Linked DNA regions of Homo sapiens: region 1 is linked to region 2. Evidence: fine-mapped expression QTL. Tissue or cell type: whole blood. Region 2 holds a variant in brackets; the other region holds the start of a gene. All regions are shown on one strand. Distances are between the middles of the regions.

Region 1 (10,283 bases), 81 kb before region 2:
CTGTATCTAGCTACTCTGGTGGGGACTTGGAGAGCCTTTGTGTCCACACTCTGTATCTAGCTAATCTATTGGGGACTTGGAGAACCTTTGTGTCTAGCTCAGGGATTGTAAACGCACCAATCAGTGCCCTGTCAAAACAGACCACTCGGCTCTCTGTAAAATGGACCAATCAGCAGGATGGGGGTGGGGCCAGATAAGAGAATAAAAGCAGGCTGCCGGAGCCTGCAGTGGCAACCCGCCCCCGTCCCTTTCAACACTGTGGAAGCTTTGTTTTTTCACTCTTTGCAATATATCTTGCTGCTGCTCACTCTTTGGGTCTACACTGCTTTTATGAGCTATAACACTCACTGTGAAGGTCTGCAGCTTCACTCCTGAGCCAGCGAGACCATGATCCCAGCAGAAGGAAGAAACTCCGAACACATCCGAACATCAGAAGGAACAAACTCCACACGTGCCACCTTAAGAGCTGCAACACTCACTGCGAGGGTCTGCAGCTTCATTCTTGAAGTCAGTGAGACCAAGAACCCACCAATTCTGGACACACTGGGATTACAGGTGCATGCCGCCACGTCCAGCTAATTTTTGTATTTTTAGTAGAGACAGGGTTTCAACACGTTGGCCAGGCTGGTTTTGAACTCCTGACCTCAGGTGATCCACCCGCCTTGGCCTCCCAAAGTGTTGGGATTACAGATATCAGACACTGCCTGGCCGGTTATGTCTTTCTTGATTCTAATCAGTATGTACATAATTTTGCATAGATATATTGATTAGGGAGGCATTTATGAAGGGCAGGTAGTGGAGAGGCTGGGGTAAGGTTAGGTAATAGGAGTTCTAGGGGATTCCATACTTTGGCCTATAATGGAATTGTAGCCTACCCAGCACTTTAAACATTCCCGATTGACTCCAATATTTGTTCTTCTAGCCACTCCTTCCCCTCTCAGCCAATGTACTTAGGGAGAAGCTGATCCCATGCTAAGTTCCAGGAATGGGCTTTATTTTCCAGGAATGAATCCATACCCTTTCCAGTAAAGGGCTCTGGAATCCAGGTCTAATGAGTCCATACCCTTTCCAGTAAAGGGCTCTGGAATCCAGGTCTAAGTGCCATGTGATTGGTTTAGGAATGGACCAATGAGACACTGTGAGGAAGTTTCCTGAGGGCTTCTGGGAATTTTCTCATAATAGAAAGCTACCAGAATTCACAGGCCCTTTTCATCTTGACTTCTTGTCCATAGACCTGAGGCCAGGGGCTGTGGCAGGCATTTTGTAGGCAGCCTAAGGGTGAAACATGCACAAGAGAGAACAAGACAACACCACAGAGAAGCAGAGCTCAGTAATGGCTGAGCCCTGCCTCACCTCCACCATTCCTAGACCTTCTCAGTCTCTTAGCCAATGAACAGCCTTGATTTTAAAGCAATTTTTATTTGAGTTTTTGCTTCTGGAAGCCAAAACAAACATTTTAGCCTATGGAATCCCAATTTATACTTAACGTTTTTATTTGTTAATCTTTAAGTTTCAGAATTCTTTTCTGATTATAAAAATAATACATACTTATTGTAGAGAACCAAGAAAACATTGAAAGATATAAAGAAGAACATTAAGACCATCCATAATCTCACTATCCCTAGATAACTGCTATTGAGTTTTGAGTTAGTTTCCTCTTTATGTATCCAAACTTACACAGAAATTTTACACATATATTTATCCTGCTTTAATGAAATTCACAGCCTAGTGGGAAATAGAAACAGACAAACAAAAACCGAACAAATAGATGAATATCTGCGACTATGGAACGTCATAGTAACTACTAACCTTGTGTTCACTGTTTTTGGGTAAATGTTGCTAATAATGTTATACCCCATCTCCACAACCCAGAACAAATCAAAGATTTATGTTAATAACTATTAAAATATAATATGCTCTAAAGTATAACAATGTCTCATAATGCCACAAAATCAACCAGTTACCAATATGTTCATTTGGTTTCCCTTCAGTAGGATTTCTTATGGGAAATTGTCCCCTGTCAGTGACTGGTTTCGCTCAACTGTCATTAGGTCTTGTCACAGTAGTTTAATTACAGCAAAAATGGCTGTTATATTGATCATTTTGACAACACACACACAAAAGGTTCAGTATTCATCAGTGTGCTGGGTAAAAACCCTTGGAGCAGGGCCCTCAAGAGGATGGAAGTTACATTGCTATGATTAGTACCAAGCCCATCAGTTCTAAATGTTTTCTAATTTCTATTATGATTTTATGACCCATGAGTTAATTGGAATAGTGGAAATATGGGGCTTGCCAGTTACCTTTTGGTTATTGATTTTTAACTTACCTATATAGTGACCAGAAAATGTGGTTACTATGATATAAATCCTTAGATATGTGGAGACTTGCTTTATGACACAGTATGTTCAATTTTTGTAAATGTTTAGCATATTCTTGATAGGAGTGTGTATTCTATGGTCATTAAGGCAATATTCTACACATATATATTAGATTAAGCTTGGTAATTGTGTTACTCAACTCTTCCAGTACCTTAAAGATTTTTTTGGTCCCCTCGGTCTATGTATTAGTTTCCTGTAATCAGTTGCTTAACAAATTATCACAATAGGTGGCTTAAAAAAACCGACATGAATTCTCAGTTCTGGCATCTAGAAGTCTGAAATCTACATGTTGGCAGGGTCACAATCCCTCCAGAGGCTCAAGAGGAAAATTTGTCTCTTCCAGCTTTGGGTGCTGTCAGCATTCCTTGACTTGGGAATGCCATCACTCCAATCTCTGCTTCTGTGGTTACATTACCTTCTCTTCTCTTCTACCTCTCTTTTATAAAGACACCTATCATTGGATTGATGGCCCACCTGGATAATCCAGGATGATCTTCTCATCTCAAGAACTTTAATTACATCTGCAAACGCCGTTTTTCCAAATAAGGTCATACTCGCAAGTTCTAGGAATTAGGATATGGACATATCTTGTGGGAGGCTGTATTCAACTCACTGCAATTAGAGAGGGAGTGAAAAATCACCTACTCTGATGGTAGATTTCTTTGTCTTCTTATACTTCTGTTCATTTTCGCTTCATATATTTTGTGGCCATATAGTCGCTATGATATAAATCCTTAGATATGTAAAGACTTGCTTTATGACACAGTATGTTAGAGACACTTTTTTGACTCTATCTTCCCTGTATATTGGACTTTTTTTTTAAATGTAAAGACCCTTCTTTATCCCATCGCACTCACCCAGCCATCTACCTAGAGTCTGTTGATGATAAACCATTAGTTGTTTGAAACAGAATTTGCCTTCCTTCTGCCTCTCTTTTTGCCACACATGTAATTCTAAGGTTTTATGTTTTCCCCTTCAGCATACCACTTAATTCTCTTTTTTTTTTTGGAGACAGTCTCACTCTGTCACCCAGGCTGGAGTGCAGTTGCGCGATCTCGGCTCACTGCAGCCTTGACCTCCAGGGCTCAAGTGATCCACCTAAGCCTCCAGAGTAGCTGGGACCACAGGCACACGCCACCATGCCAGGCTAATTTTGTTTTTAGAGGCGTGGTCTTGTTATGCTGGTCTGGCTGGTCTCGAATTCCTGGGCACAAGCGGGCCTCCCATCTCTGTCTCCTCAAGTGGTTGAATTACAGGCGTGAGCCACTGCGCCCAGCTCGCATTTTTTTTTTTTTTTTGAGATGGAGTCTCGCTCTGTTGCCCAGGCTGGAGTGCAGTGGCGCGATTTCGGCTCACTGCAACCTCTGCCTCCCGGGTTCAAGCAATTCTGCCTCAGCCTCCCGAGCAGCTAGCTGGGACAACAGGCACGTGCCACCACGCCCGGCTAACTTTTTTGTATTTTTAGTAGAAACGGGGTTTCCCGTGTTAGCCAGAATAGTGTCGATTTCCTGACCTCGTGATCCGCCCGCCTCAGCCTCCCAAAGTGCTGGGATTACAGGAGTAAGCCACCGCGCCCGGCCTGAGCCGGCATTTTTAAAAGTTGGGTTGCTGGCCTTAGTGCATACAAACGTAAAGGAATTTTAAAAACACATGAGTAACTCAAACGCATTTCTTTTTTGCGCCATCCTGCTATGTGTGATTCGGTTTTTATTCTCGATTTTGTGCGTGTGTGTCGCGACGGCTGGGGACCGACCCAAGAGCAGTCGGACCACGGGCCGCCCAGGGCGGTCTCATCCGTTTATAACCTGCGACCCCGGGGCCTCTTGTGGTCCCGTACCTCCGTCCCAAGCAAAAGCCGGGGCTCTCAGGCACTCAGAGGTGCGAAGGCCCCGTAGACTTGGAGGACGCGAGGAAAACACCTCCAATCACTCTGGCCAGTCCACAGCTACTGCCAAGACTGCTCCGCGCGCGTCCTCAGGAACCGGCGAGGGCCTCGTCGTCATGGTAACCAGATTGCGAACGCGCGTGCGCAAGACACACCTTTGTCACGTGAGGCCGGGCAGGGGGCGGGGCCGGCGAATGCCCGTCCCGACCCGTCGCGCCTCCCCTGTTAGCTCCCTGCCAGCCGAGGCGGGGCGAACCTCTGCCCTGTTGCGTGGGAGTGACTCACAGCTCCCGCCCCTTTTGGCTCCGCTTTCTCGCGGCCAGTCCCTCGCACCACGTGCCCTCCTGGCCGCGCCCCCAGCTGCCCTTTCCAACTGCCTGTTGGAAGCCGCTGTAAAACGTCGTGAGGAGCGCCGCTGCTTTACGGCTGCCTCTCCCAGACTAGAGCCCCGGAGCGCCCACCGCCGTCAGCCGCGTCTTCAAGCTAGTCGGCCCCGCGGAGAGCGAGAGACCCTGCGCACCGCAGCCCTCTCCGCTGCGCCCATTCCTGCCGCCGGCGATGTAACTCGGGGAGGCAGCGGTGCCCGCTGGCCCGGGGTTGAGACAGGCGGCAGGTGCCTGTGAGGCGGGCGGGTGCCGGGGGCCAGCAGGATGGAGGAAAGCATGGAAGAGGAGGAGGGGGGCAGCTACGAGGCGATGATGGACGACCAGAACCACAACAACTGGGAGGCTGCGGTGGACGGCTTCCGGCAGCCCCTGCCACCTCCGCCGCCCCCCTCGTCGATCCCGGCCCCTGCCCGAGAGCCTCCGGGGGGGCAGCTGCTGGCGGTGCCCGCGGTCTCCGTGGACAGGAAAGGCCCCAAGGAGGGGCTCCCGATGGGGCCGCAGCCACCGCCGGAGGCTAATGGGGTGATCATGATGTTGAAGAGCTGCGACGCGGCCGCCGCCGTGGCCAAGGCGGCCCCCGCCCCCACCGCCAGCTCCACCATCAACATCAACACCTCCACCTCCAAGTTCTGTGAGTCCAGCCTTTCCCTGCAGCCTTGGCTTTTCTCCACCTCACTCGGACGCCGAATCCACCCCCTCTTGGAGAAAGCTCCGCTTCCTTTGTTTCAGGCCTCGGTCTTTCCTCTTCTCCCCGTCCGCCTTCGCCTCCCTGCCTCCTTCCCCCTCACCGTCCCCTCCCCCTCATTTGGTGTCTGCGGCCAGCGCCTGAGCGGCCCTGGCTTCTTGTATTACCTGGCCTAGAGAGGCAGCCTGGTACACACGGAGCCCCAAGTTCGGTCAGTGCGATCCCTATCACAACTGGCAGTCTCTCAACATTGGGAAGCTCTTTTCGCACCCGTCTTCTCTTGAAGTTTCACCCTCAAAGTGAGGGGAAAATAAGGCTGCCTGAGTCTCGTTAGGGAAAGGCCTTCAGTCTTCTGCAGCCAGAGAGAGAAAAGAAATCTGGCAACTTGTGTTCTTGTGTTTTTGGCCAGGCTGTGTTAAACAAGTAAGGAATTTGAAAGTTGACCTATATCTACACCTTGTTCCTTCTCTACTGTGTTACACTTTTGCATCCTGCTAGGGAAATAATGAGTTGCTTTCCGATGCAGTGGCAGCTCCGACATCGTCTTGAAGCTAATAATGCATAAAATCACTTTTCAGAGCTTACACTCATAAGAATAAGCCTTTCAGGATGGGTTATGTCTTGTGTCCAAACCCAAGATTGGGTTGCATGTTGAACTTTATGTTAGTAGTCTGTCTTAACGCTCAATTGCACGCATTAAGATTTAAGACCAAAATCTGTTTTGTAATCCGAAACTGCCTCTGACCAGGATATATGTATGCTTCCATAGCTAGGAAAAGAATGTGCTTTTACTTTGGTTTGTGTGTATGTGTGCGTGGCGGTGGTGGTGGTGATAGGATGTTGAAAATGATTGTGACCATCACAGCCAGGTTTTTCTCTCCTATTATTAACTGCAAGTTTTGAGTGGCATCTGGTAAAGCAACTGGAGAGTTCATTTCTAGCTACTAATTTTATGAAGCTGTACTTGTCCAGTTAGCTGTGCAGAGAAAATATTTGCCTTGATGCAGATAGTCGGAATCTTACACACTGTGTGTGGGAACAGCGCGTAATTTTATTTGCCCCAAGATACTGCCTTAGTCAAAGACATTGATATGTACGTTTGGTAAGATTATATACGCTTTTTCTCCTTATTCATGATAATCATGTTTATATTGTATAGTTTGTGTGTTGAAGGCTGTGTTGTGGAACCAGACCTCCTGTAGAGTGGCAGAATGACTTCACCTGAGTCACGAAGGAAGATTGCCTTAGTAAAGTTCCTTTGAAGAGTTCAAAAAAGAGCATAAAGTTAGGAACAGAAATCAGTAAAATTGAGAACAAAAGGATTTGTCACACCAAAAGATTATTTTTGTGAAAAGATGAGTAAGCTAGGCAGACAGACCTCTGATAAAAACGACAAGAAAAAAAGATGCAAATAAATGAAAAATGGAAAATAACTACAAATATCAGATTAAAAAAAGAACGTTATGAACTTAGGCTGATGAATTTGAAAGCCTAAATGAAAAATATAGTTCTTAGAAAACTAGTAAATGTGAAAATTGGTATCAGAAGAAATATCTTGAACTAATAAACTGAAATGGTAAAGATCTCCCTTTTTAGAAGCTCTGCATCCAGATACGCTGATGAGTTCCACCATACTTTAACACTTAATTCTTTTTGCAAGTTGCACTGGAAAATAGAAAAAATACCAAGTTCATTTTATGAGGCTTGTGAAATCTTGATTCTAAAACAGATAAGGACATGTAAGAAGAGAAAATTATAGGTCTGTTTTACTTAGCATAGAAATGAAAATACTGCAGAATAAATACTCGCTCATCAAATCCAACAGTGTGTTACAGAGTCCTGATCCATAGAGTTAGTCCTAGAGATGAAAGCATGGTTTAACATCTACTTATCTAATTTAGCTCTTTAATAGACTAAAGGAAAAAAATTACGATTATCTCAATTGGTGCCCTGAAATCATTCAACTAGATCCAGCAGCTATTTATGATAAAAACTCTTGGTAACCTAGGAGTACAAGATAACTAGATAAAGGTCATTACCAAAAACCTTCAGTAAATAATAATACTTAATGGAGAAATTTTAGATACATATACTTTAAGATCCGTAACAAGATAAGGATGCTCCTGTCATTACTACTGTTTAGCATTGTAGGAAGGTCCTGGCTAACATTATAAGGAGCAAAAAAATAAGGTATAAAGATTGTAAGGGAAGCAATAAAAGTTATTATTTGCAGATAATATGATCACCTACCTAGATGAACCATTAAAATCCAGAGAAAACTTAGAACTAGTAAGAGTTTAGCAGGATTGCTGGATTTAAGATAAACTTACAAAAATTTGATAGCATTTACTAAACTAGTGATAACTAGTAAAGATAATCAAAAGTAAATACTATATGTAATAATAGCAACAAAACTCTAAAGTCTCTAGGAATCAACCCGTGAATACGCAAGACCTTTAAAAAGGAAACTTTAAAACTTGAAAAAGAAACTAGAGGATAATCTAAATAAATGGTACAATTTTCCTTGCTCTTGGATCAAATTACTTACAAGAATACTAATTTTCTCCAATTTATAAATTCAGTTTAAATGACGTCAAAATTACATTTGGTTTGACAAACTCAATAGCCTAAGTCTAAAATTTATATGGTGTGTGGGATAAAGTTTGTGAATAACAGAATCAATCTTAAAGATTTGTTTGGGGATGGGAGGCTTGCCTTATTAGAAGTTAAGATGTCAAGGCTGTAGTTAAAGTGGTGTAAGTGCGAGAACAGAAAAATAGACCAAGGAAACAAATTGGAGGGCAGAGACTTACCTGGATACATGTATAAAAGTTGGGAACTTTTTAAGTGGCATCATAAACCACTGGAGAAAGGAGTCATATGTTGTTAGGGAGAGTGACTCACTATATAGAGAAAAAATAAATTTAATATCATAAATGGATAGACTCCAAATGAATTAAAGACCTAAATGTGAAAAGAAAAACCAAAGTTAACATTATTGAAAATGTTAAGCTCTTTCCCTAGGGACAGGGAAGTACTTTTTAAAGCTTCAAAAGTTTATAAAGGTGAAAAATTAATTATTTTGATTATATGAAAATTATTCATTTGGCAAAAGATGAAAAAATTAGAGAAGATATTTACAGTGCCTAAAATTAACAAGGGATGATGATCTGACTAGACAAGGGACTACTTACTATACATCAACAAGAGGGCAGCAACTTCTGTAGAAAAATAGGCAAAGGATATTAATAAGTAGCTTATAGAAAGAATAGGAAACCCTAAAAAGCATAAGAAGAGATGAATTTATTAATATTCAGAGACATGCATATTAAAATAGTAATGGAAAAGAGTATAATTGGATTGTTTGTAAAACAAAGGATAAATGCTTGAGGTGATGGTACCGCATTTTCCCTGATGGGATTATTACACACTGTATGCCTGTATCAAAATATCCCATATACCTCATAAAAATATATGCCTACTATATACCCACAAAAATTAAAGAATAAAATAGTAACGGAATGTCTTTTTCCACCTTTAGGTTGACAAAAATTAGAAAGCTGAATGAATAGTGCCAAGTGCAATGGGGATATGGTAATACAGGAAAACGTATACTTGCTTGTGGGAATAGCAGTGTAGTGAACTTGTGAGATGTTGAGATGTCCGAAGTCTCTGTGGACCAGATAGTGGAAGATAGCTGCCGCGTTAATGTATCCCTCAGCTATGGCAGTGAAGGTATACTTTAGACTGTAAGGTGAAAACAGCTTCTGTTGGTTTCTAGTTTTGGGACAGAGATAAAAAGCATTTATTATCTTGATGGATACATGGTAGGTGCCAGGGATGGTGTTGATTTGTCACAGTGAAGAGACCATGTCTGGAACAGCAACTAAAATTGGAGTCACTTTGGATTTGATCGATGATAATCCACAGTCATGCTCCAAGACTCATCTCTTTTGCTCTGGCCAAACAGACCCATGAAATAAGAATGTCATAATTATCACCATTCCTTTTTTTTTTTTGAGACAGTCTCGCTCTGTCGCCAGGCTGGAGTGCCGTGGTGCAGTCTTAGCTCACTGCAATCTCCGCCTCCCGGATTCAAGCAATTCTCCTGCCTCAGCCTCCTGAGTAGCTGGGATTACAGGTGTGCACCACCATGCCCGGCTAATTTTTGTATTTTTAGTAGAGATGTGTTTCACCATGTTGGTCAGGCTGGTCTCAAACTCCTGACCTCAGGTCATCCACCCGCCTTGGCCTCCCAAAGTGCTGGGATTACAGGCGTGAGCCACCACGCCCGGCCCTCCTTTCTTATTTTTAAAGTCTTTGACATTGATAGTGTTTTCTATAGTTCCCACAGAGATGTGTTGTTTGTTGCTTCGAGTTTATTACTTTGGTAGGAAAGGGTACATCTAGCCCTTCCTATGTTGATATTCCTGACTTCACAGGTTAGGGAACCATGAACTAGTTTCAGAACTGGGGGAGTTACAGTGTTACTACGGGTCCACCAGCCCTACTGTGAGATGGATTGAGGCCAAAACACCATTTATGTGACGTCCATAAGCCCCTGATCTGCCTGGTTTACCATAGTGACGTTCCTGTCTCTTAGGGTTCGTATTGGCTTAGAGCCAGTGTTTATTAATCTTTGAAAAGTCTCAGTGATTTCCATTTCCCAAATGTACTATCTCCCTAATAAATACCTGCATGTTCTATTGGAAAAGGCTAGGAGGAAGACTTTAATTATGTGGGGTTCTTCCTCAGTGGAACTCATCCTCTTCTTTATTCCAGCATTTCTGTGTCTGTGAATAGGCTCATTGTGGGTTTTAGGTGAGGTTACATGGCTTTCCATTATGCCACTTAGGTGAGACCTCTGTTTAATATATCTAGAGTTTTTCTTTTCTGTCCATTATAACAGATCAAGTAATACCCCAGTATATTGCCTTTGTTTTCCT
Region 2 (10,283 bases):
AATTCCAAAAAAATTCCCAATGATTTTCACTGTGGAACCTGACAATTTGATTCGTCGATATAAATGGAAGAGCAAAGGGCCAAGGATATCCAAGACCTTTCTGAATGGATTGTGAGGGGAACTAGCACTACAAGATTCTAACACTTACTGCCAAAGGTAGTGATTAAAACAATGACTTTGGAGTAGGGAAGAATTTCATCAACAAGATAGAAAATGCAGACTATCAGTAGATAAGTAATTTGGCTACCATTGATTGTAAGTACTTATTACCAAACATGCTGTAGAGTGAAAAGAGAAGCCAAATCTGGAATAAGATACAAATATTCATAATATAACTGCTAAAGAGCACCTGAATGCAAATCAGCAATGAAAACAACTCAGGAGAGACGGACCCCAAACACTAGCAGGCATTTCACAGAAGAAACAGAAATGGCCCATAAATGTGAAAAGATGTTCAGCCTCATTAGTCGTCAGGTAATGCACATTAAAAGCATAGATACCATTTCCTTGCTGACAACTTGGCAGAAATTATGAGAAGTCTGAAAATAACAATCTGAGAGTTTATGACAACAAACCTTCACCTGTTGTTGGCGTGTAAATCTGCACTTCTACTTTGGAGAACAGTATTATCTAATGAAATTGAGCATAGGCACCTCTTAATAGCCCACTATTTATACTTAGAAAAACTCATGTGCATGTGTACCAAGAAACGTATACAGGGATGTTTATAACAGCATTATGTGTAATAATTAAAAGGAATGAAGGAGGGAGCCAAATGCCCATCTAGCATACAGTGAATAAATGAAGTGTATGCTGTGGAATTCTCTAGAGTGGTCAAGGCATCATACCACTGCGGGCTTCAACATGGATGCATCTCAGAAATCATTGAGTGAAGTCAGAATAGAGCCAGCATGGGTACCTTTATGTAAAGTTCAAAATCAGAAAAAACTAAGTATATTGTTTAGGGACTCAGACACAAGTAGTAAAGCTATAAAGGAAAGACAGTTATTAACATTCAGGAACATAGTTTCCTCAGGAGAGGGTGGTGGAGGGGAATGAGAACAGAGGGGAGAACGGGGACTTGGAAGCACTTCATAATATGAACGTTTGGACCATTCTAAACATGCCAGTTCTCTGAGTTAATGTATATTCAGTGTAAAGCCAATTCAGATAACCAACAGTATTTATATAATCTAAAAAACTCATGGAAGTATAAACAGATGAAAATAGGAAAATCCCCATTGAAAGTGAAGAAAATGGAAGGAACTTGCTGTACCAAAAAAAATCACTTTCTAAGTGCAATTAAATTAAAAGACTTATGCCAGGGTAAACAGATAAGTCAATGGAAGGTAATTTAGAAAATAGAAAACTCAAATTTAGAATTTAGAGTACACTAAAGGCGGCTTTTTGAAATCATGCTGTCCATGGTCAATTATTTTATGAAAGGTGCTGGTATAATTAGAGAACATTAAACTGATTCCTATCATACCATTCACCAAGAGAAATTCCAGATTGTGAACTAAAAAAGAAAAAAATGTTGTAAAAACTAGAAAGTAGTATTTTTTCTTGGGATTGGAGAAGTTTTTTCTAAGAATACAAGCAATGAAACCGAAAACCCTATTAAACTCACTCACCTGCCTTTAATGCCGTAGTGTGCACACCCCAGTGTGTGTGTGTGTGTGTGTGTGTGTGTGTGTGTACATAGACATATATATTTTAAAATGTTTAAATTTGAACATATGTTACCAATACATATAAAGCAAAAGTAGAAAATCAAAAAGATGAAGTAAAAATGTTTTAAAATATTGTTTGTGGTATTTGTGGTTAATAAACCTTTGCTCTTTCTAAAAAAATGTTCTTTTAGAGAGAGTCATGATTAAAAATGCTTGTCATTTTTGAAACTCCTAGTTTTAACACTTTATAAAAACAACTTAATGTTCTTAAGGTAAGTTTATTTTCATGCTTGGTTTTAATGACTATTGTAGCTGAATAAGTCACTTCATTAATTAAGATCTGTGGATCCAAATATGGCTGTGCTTACTGAAAATATTTTTGAGTTCCATCCACCAATTTTGCAAAAGTGTGTTGTTGAAATTTTTATAATAAATTTTCATCTTTTCCAATGTCAGTAACTTGTTTTTGCTGAATAATTAGGAGTGTTGCATTTTTATTTTTGCTAACAGATGGGTTCAAAACCTGCTGTAACTTATTTTTGAATTTCATTTCCCAAGTTTAAGTGTACACTTTGAAGAGTTTTTATAGGTGACAATTTTTGGCAACACATTTTCATGAATTCTTGCTCGGTCATCGTTAGTATTAAATGTTATCTTTACCTTGAAGGGTCAGTTTAAATCTGTCCATTTAAAAAAATACTTTCTAGATTGCATATTGATTACAGACACTTGTCACCACAGGAAAGATTGGCACATTCAAGTCTTTTTATCAATTAAAAAAATACCATATTTAAGAATTTTGCTATGAGATAACCGGCAAATTTGAGGGTTTAATTTCCTCATCTCATTATAAACTGTTGTCAAGATGCTTTTGTGTAAGATAATAAAAATCTAAGTCCAGTTGGCTTATGGGGCACACAGATGACAATATTCTGGAAGAGAGTGGTGCCGCTGTTGCTCTCTCTGCAACATGGAGCTCTCAGCACTCCTTGAGGATTCCTCACTGACTGGCATGTGCTGCCTGACCACTTGCCATGCAGCCTGTGTGTCTGTTATGTATTGGTAAGGCTTCTTTACTCTTAAAAACATAACTTCTGTTTTCTTCCTGTACCTCAGTGGATCACCTTGTTCACTTTGGAGATCACTGGCTTAAACAGTGAGGGAGACATCACTTCACAGAAGTCTCAAGGTTGGGCAGTTCCAGGGCTGATAAATACAACAGCTAATTGATGTCCAGGACCTGGATTTCTTCCTGCTTTCTGCTCTGCCAGCCTCATTATGTTCACTTTGTGCTCAGTGTTGCTTCCTTCAAGGTCTTTACTTGACTGCTGCAGTTGTCAGAATGACAACAACCAGTTGAAGCAGAGGGCCTCTGTTCCCCAGCATGTCTCTTTTAAGAGCAGTGTAACTTCCCTGAAGCCACACCAGCGCAGTTCCCTTCGGTTTTCATTGAGGGGCATTGGGATAACTGAGGAGGAGAATGGGACCACCATGGTAGACTTAGACCAAACAGATCTACCCTCCTGGGGCTGGGACCTGGCTCAAGCCCACATTGGGTTAAGGAGGTGGGGCTGTCTGGAAAAAGCTGGGTCTCAGGACGGTGAAAGGCTGCTAGTGACTCTTGGTTACGTGAGTCCACTACGTAGGTCTGTGACAGCTGTCCATTGGGAGCCTTTGGGAGATGGGAAAACCAAACTTTGACTCCACATCAACTTTGTTTTTACACAACATATCTGCTCTTCAGGATTAACCAAGGTGCTTTGCTTTGACAGTCATGGTAGATGATTTCTCCTAGAATCTATAAACAACACAGAATAGTCACCCTCCTGACTAGAATAGCCAGGGAGCTATGATTAAAGAAGACAAAGAGCTTACATTAGCATAGGCGAAAGAAAAAGTCCCTGTCTGAAAAGGAAAATTTTTTCTTGGGTATGTCCAGATTCACCCAAAACAAAGCTAAGCAGGATGGTGGTATGTAACAAGGTGTTAGGAAGTAAAAATAGGGCCTTGCTTGTTGAGATAGTGTTTGGTGAACAATCTTGTCCCTAAGACAGCTCAGACAGCATTGGGGAAAGGAAATAGATGTCATCTGAGCACATGTGACACAGTGACAGCTGCTCTTCACTGGATACCTGTCTGCATGGGAGGTGTTTCACGCACATCTTAGGAGCAATCCAGTGAGGCAGTGACTCGTGGCACTCTACAGATGTATGGTGAGCCGTTCTGAGACGACCCGAGTGACTGCCACTCCCGCATTCACACCCTTAATGTAATCCCCTCA[A/C]CTTGAGTGTGGGCTGGACCCAGCAACTTGCTTCTGTTGAAAATACTGTGGCCCAGGTGATGGGCTGTCACTTCTGTGATTAGGTTACAGAAGACTCGTCATTTTGCCTGTGTTCTCTCCTCAGCTTTCACTTGACAGGGCCACTGGGCAAGGAACTGAGGGTGGCATCCAGCCAACAGCTACCAAGGAACTGAGGCCTTCAATCTAATAGCCCGAGGGGCTGTAAATCCTGCTGACGGTCCGAGTGAACTTGGAATGGATGTTGGTCCAGTTGAATCTTGAGATGACTGTGGCCCTGGCTGACACCTTGATCACAGCCTAGCGGCAAAGCCTGAGACAGAGAATTCAGCTAAGCTGTGCCCAGACTCCTGACCCAGGGAAACTCTGGAATAACCGTGTGCTGGTTTAAGCCACTAAATTTTGTGAGTAATTTGTTACACAACAATACAACTATTACAAGATGAAACAGCCCAGATGTCAGATTTAAATAACCTGCCCCAAATCACACAATGGAAGATTTGAACCCCCATCTACAAGGTGATTTGCTTTACTGCTCAGTCCTCCCTCTTGGCAGCCTCTGGTACAGGTGAACACTGGACTGTGGGCCTCTGTTAGACCTAGCAGGGCTGTTCTTAAGACCTCACTAATCATACCTCCCCCGGCAGTGGTGGTGAAGCCATCCATGACCATAATAACTTCAGAGAGAGCCTTTTCAGCCGGGGCTTCATGAATAAAGCTCTGCAGAAAAGGGTGTTTGAATAATTTTTGTCACTTTTCCCAAGGATGGTAAACAGCTTTTAGATGCACAGGAGCGAAATTACATATAATGGATGCCTTAGGGCACCAGGGCCGTTTAGCTGGGCAGGGCACCTCAGGCCAGGGCCCAGGAGAGCCCTCATGGGCAGGAGACGTGAAGGTACGTGGAGATTCAGAGGTGAAGGGAACAAGCAAATGGCATTGATCAGGACTTTGGAGGCAGCACAGTGCAATTGAAAGAACAGATGCTTCAGACTTGATACCTTTGGGGCCAGCTGGCTTCAGGCCCTGTTGAGCTGTCTCTCCCTGGGCAGGTCACTCAGCTCTCTGAGCTTCAGTTTACTCCGCTGTGAAACCGTAGTACGCTTTCACTCATGCTTTCAGTTTTTCCCTGGCTAGATGTTTCCCAGCCTTCAGATCTCAGAATAACAGCAGCTACCACTACTGTAACTACTCCCCCGGAGTAGTTACCAAGCGCTTACTGTGCGCCTGGCACTGTACAAAGCACTCTATGCCTATCGTCTCAACTCACAACAGCCTCATTTTCCATTGAGAAAGCTGGAACTCACAGACATGAACAATCACTGGTCCTGAACAATTGCTCACTGTCAGTGGTTGATGTAAGGGCTTCAAGATATAACCATAACACATGGCCTGGCACAGAGCATGTGCCCAGTGAGTGCCCAATTCCTATGGCAGCAGATCAGTCTGCTGCACTGTGGCTCAGCTCCCTGGATGGCAGAAGAGACCAAGGGCCATAACTCGGCCTCCTTATGCCCAAACAGTGTCATTCTCAGCAGAGCCTGTGGACTGTCTGAGGGTCTCTGCTGAGGGTGGCTGTGGGCTGTTAGCAGCGTTCTCTGTTGGATAGGGCTCCCTAAGCTCTGGGTAGCCTCTGGGCCTGCAGACAGAGCCCAGTCTAGTGCCCCAGCATTTGGGAAGTGCAAGGCCAGACTTTTGGGACACATTGTGGGGAAAGGGACCCAACAGGGCTGTCAAGAGCAAGATCTCTCAGCAGGACCACTGACTCCCTAAGCTAAAATAATGATCCAGAAGACACAATTGAGTGGCGCATTAGTCCATTTTCACGCTACTGCCAAAGACTGGGCAATTTACAAAAGAAGTTTAATTGGACTACAGTTCTATGTGGCTGGGGAAGTCTCACAATCATGGTGGAAGGCAAGGAGGAGCACGTCAACGTCTTACATGGATGGCAGCAGGCAAAGAGTTTGTGCAGGGAAACTCTTATTTTTAAAACCATCAGATCTCTGGAGACTCATTCACTATCAGAAGAACAGCGCAGGAAAGACCCGCTCCCCTAATTCAGTCACCTTCCACTGGGTCCCTCCCACAACATGGGGGAATTCAAGATTATATTTGGCTGGGGACACAGCCAGACCATATCAAGTGGCTAATCATCATATGCTGTTCAGAGAGAAGGAGACTCAGGCCAAGGTCAGATATACTCGAGGCGGCTGAATGCTATTGCAGGGAGAGCTCATCCTGGAATCGGATCAGACAGAATTTTGGCTCCGCCATTATTAAGTCACTGAGCCACTCTGACTTCCAGTCTCATCTATTAAAAAAAAAAAAAAAAACTGGCCCATGGTAGTGAACACTGTTGCTTTGGCCTGCTCAGCTGCCATTTGCACTTCTTTATATAATTTTCTTGGGGGAACTGCTTCTGTCTGTTCAACATAGTCCTGGGCGGAGGTAGGTGCAGGGACTGCTGGTGAAGGCGTCCTGCCTTCTTCAGCTAGCAGATGGGAATGTACCTGAGCCAATCAGGCCCCTCTCCTGGAGCTGGAATTATGTATGGGGCAATTTGAAGTCCTCAAAAGGCAGGAGCTGGCCCTTCCCAAGAGCAGAGACACCCGGAGCTGGTGCTGGGGCTGTCTGATCCTTACCCTTCCAAAGGCTGTAGCACCTCAATGGTCTTTCCTTTTCACTGTAAGGGGTGACAGTCAGTGTTTGCCGCTTGCAGCCCACATGCCCTAAGACCCCCAGAGGATCCCCTGTGTGTTCTTGCTTTGCATGTAATCCCTTCCTCATAAGTGAAGTCTTCGTTAGCTGCTTTGAGCATTTCTAAAACAGTGGTAAACAAATGAATACATTTATGAGATGGTGGCTTGCTGGTTTCTTCCCTCTGCATTTTCTCTTTAGGAAAAAAAAGGGGGAGACTGTCTAGGCTGATCCTTAGTCTAGAGTTCCTGGGGTAGAGTGCCCAGGGACACAGTCCCTAAGAGCCTGTGATGGTTAATATTGTCAACTTGATTGGAATGAAGGTTGAAAGTATTGTTCCTGCGGGTGTCTGTGGGGGTGTTGCCAAAGGAGATTAACATTTGAGTTAGTGAACTGGGAGAGGCAGACCCACCCTCAATCTGGGTGGGCACCATCTAATCAGCTGTCAGCACGGCTAGATAAAAGCAGGCCGAAAATGTGGGAGGACTAGACTGGCTGAGTCTTCTGGCCTTCATCTTTCTCCCATGCTGAATGCTGCCTTCTCTCAAACATCAGACTCCAAGTTCTTCAGTTTTTGGACTCTTGAACTTATGCCAGTGGTTTGCCAGGGGCTCTCAGGCCTTCAGCCACTGACTGAAGGCTGCACTGTCGGCTTCCCTACTTGTGAGGTTTTTAGGACGCGGACTGGCTTCCTTGCTTCTCAGATTGCATGCAGATGGCCTATTGTGGGACTTCACCTTGTGATGGTGTGATCCAATACTCCTTAATAAACTCCCTTTCGTATATACATCTGTCCTATTAGTCCTGTCTCTCCAGAGAACCCTAACTAATACAGAGCCCTTGATCCCCGATGACCCACCAGCAGAGAAACCCAGGTGTCCTCTTACACTGACTGGCATCCCGGGGGTCCTTGCCCAGCTCCAAAGTGAGCTGCATGAGCAGGGTCTGGTGAATGAATGCCTCTGCACAGTTGCTGGCACATCTCTCAAAGCCCCGGTCCAAACCTTTTAATGGACTACAAAACACTGCTGGCCGCGTCTCTCCCCCAGCTGACCATTTGTAAATTGCTTTCGCCCTGATGCCTGATGGGGTGAAAAATGCATTTCCCATATCCAGACTGCAGCAGGTGGATTTCTGCCGCCACTGCAGCAGGAGCTCACAGGGCCAGCCTGGCAGCTTTGGCCCTGGCCCTCAGCCTGTGAGAGCACTGGTGGCCTTCTGGGAGTGGGTGGGCAGGTGACGGGCCCTGTTTGGGGACCCTTGCCCACACACCACAGGTTCTAATGGCTGGAATGGGCAGGGGCGAGGGTGGTCCTCTGATCACTGGTCACAGGATCTGCTGGAAGGGAGCCTCCGCTCCCACCCTGCTTCACTGGGTCCTGAGCAGGACACTGAATCTCAGGCCTCAGTTTTTGTTCTCTAAATGAGGCCCCTATTGAGCAGGTCCTTGCTTTGTGCCTGGCATCTTATTTCTCATGTCCCTGGGGTCTGTGCTGCTGCTCCCTCCATTCTCCATGCCAGGTTTGTTGCTGTGTCCTACTAGGGCTATCTGACTCCAGGGGGACATCGGGTACACTGGTGGCACTGCTAGGTGCCCACCCAGATTGAGGGTGGGTCTGCCTTTCCCAGTTCACTAACTCAAATGTTAATCTCCTTTGGCAACACCCCCACCCTGAGGACCCCTATTGTCCTCAGGGCCGTCCCCTCTGACACTGCCAGCAGCTGTTGGGACAGCACCATGGCATCTGCCTTCTTGGAGGGCTGCCGCCTCTCTGTCCCCTTCCTCTGAGTGAGACAGAGAGGAGTGAGAGCTGGATGCTGTCACATCATCTTTCCGGGGTTCAGCATGGGTGCTGGTTAGGAGCACAGGCCTCTAAAACTCTGTCTCTGCCTACAGAAGTCTCCATCCCCCACCCATAAGCTGGGGGTGCCCTCTACTAGAAATGGGTTAGCACTAACATTACAGACAATAATAGTAGCTATGATTATTTAGATGACTTTTCTCTTTAAAGGAAAACAGTTATCACTTAGTAAGTATTGAAAAAAACAGCAGTAATTATTATACTGTCTAGCCAAAGCCTGTTCAAGTTCCCTTTTAACTTTCTCTTCTTTGGGCTAAAATTAGATTTGTGTTTTCTTTTAACTCAATAAACAGTCACTGAGCAGCCTCCACGTATTAGATTAGACGATCTCCATGGTAATCCGGAGCGCCTGCATCTGATTAAATCTGTACCCAGGCCTCCGTCCAAGGCTGCGGTCCCTGAAAGGAAGTCCTTGTGGAAAAACAGTAGCTTTCAATTACCGAGTGTTTCTGTCGTCAGGCTTGCGCTAAGCACTTTATATACAAATTGGCATTTAATGACCAAAACAGTCCCATGGCGGGGCTTCTAATCCTGTTTTACAAATGGGATAAGTGGAGTTCAGAGAAATCCAGTAATTTATCCAGAGTCCCTCAGGTACCAGGGGACAGAGCTGGGTCCAACTCGGGTCTGACCCCGAGGCTGTGCCTTTTTCTCCCAGGCCACGCTGCAGACCCCAGGGAGTGGCACAGTGGGAATGAAACTCTGAGCCACTTCCGCAATTTAGCCTGTTAATAGGAAGCGAACATCTACCCCCAAATGCTGCTCAGACTGGCTCATTTGGCAGCTTCCTCTGATGAGCTGAAATGCTGCTGCTCTGCGGCCACCCTGGGAGTCTCATTCTGGTCTAATGGGCTCTGATGGGCAGTTAGAGATGTGATAGATAAAGCAGAGAATGAGTTAGCACCTAACCACGATGGGGGCAGGCAGCCTCTTCCTAAGCAAAGAGTCCGGTGGGACCGAGAGCTACGTGATGGAAGGGCTCTGTCCCCAACCTGGGAGGGGTTGGGATACTTAGGTCAGGGAGCAGAGTTGGAGCTAGAGTTCCACCCTCCTTCTTCCTCATCTGCTCAGAAACGGAGTGATGAGAACATAAATTCAGCCCCAAGGAGTCAAGAAGGACCTGAGAGGCAAACACTGAACAGCCAGTGCCATCTCATGCCCCACCCCACAGCTACCCCAAGAAGTAGGTACTCTGATTATTCTGTTTTCAGACGAGGAGTTAAGGCTCAGAGAGGTACCCGGAGTTACACAGCCAGTAGGTGGCAGAACCACGATGGCCAGACCCCAATCACAGCCCCACCTGAAACTAGACTCCAGCCTAGGAGCCTTGCTTTCTCCTGAAGACCCCACTGGACTGAGACCCCACCACCTGGAGTGCATCTACTGTGCTGGCTAAAAGAGCTGCTTGCTGGAAGCCCAGGTTCCCTGATGTCCGTCTTGCTGCAGAAGTCCAGAGCCTCATGTCAGCCGCCTCCCACAAATCCAGGTCTGGCCAGTGCCCCTTGCCCCCACTCTCAGCAACAACAGCGTTTCCTAGAGCTGTGCCCCAGGTCCTGATGTTCCCTGGCTGAGGGCCCTTGGCCAACAGACTGCGCTTCTGTTTTCTCCTTGGCAAGAAGAGGGCATCCCTGAACATCAGCGTGCTGAACTGTCACTAAGGGAGCTAGTCAGTAATGCAGCTTTTACCCTCCCCACCCCTCCCTACCTCCCTGAGATTCTGAGTCTGCAGGTCTGGAGCAGGGCCCAGAA

What was found. PIP is the estimated chance that this variant, and not a neighbour inherited with it, causes the effect.
Region 1: CACUL1 starts here. The variant in region 2 is fine-mapped to the expression of CACUL1 in whole blood (TOPMed, PIP above 0.99).

What each region holds. Positions count from the first base shown.
Region 1 is chr10:118,749,396-118,759,678 of GRCh38, reverse strand. CACUL1 (CDK2 associated cullin domain 1) reads left to right here and starts at 4,709. Exons shown (of 9, transcript NM_153810.5): 1 at 4,709-5,283. The coding sequence starts at 4,917. It overlaps LOC107987151 (a long non-coding RNA gene), which reads left to right and starts at 230. Exons shown (of 2, transcript XR_001747604.3): 1 at 230-1,046; 2 at 1,093-1,926. RefSeq lists enhancers at 4,348-4,642, 4,641-4,780.
Region 2 is chr10:118,668,256-118,678,538 of GRCh38, reverse strand. CACUL1 (CDK2 associated cullin domain 1) reads left to right here. Exons shown (of 9, transcript NM_153810.5): 9 at 1-2,128. Among named protein-coding and RNA genes, the nearest start is that of PRLHR, 78 kb to the right of the region's middle. The variant A/C (reference allele first, on the strand shown) is at 3,955.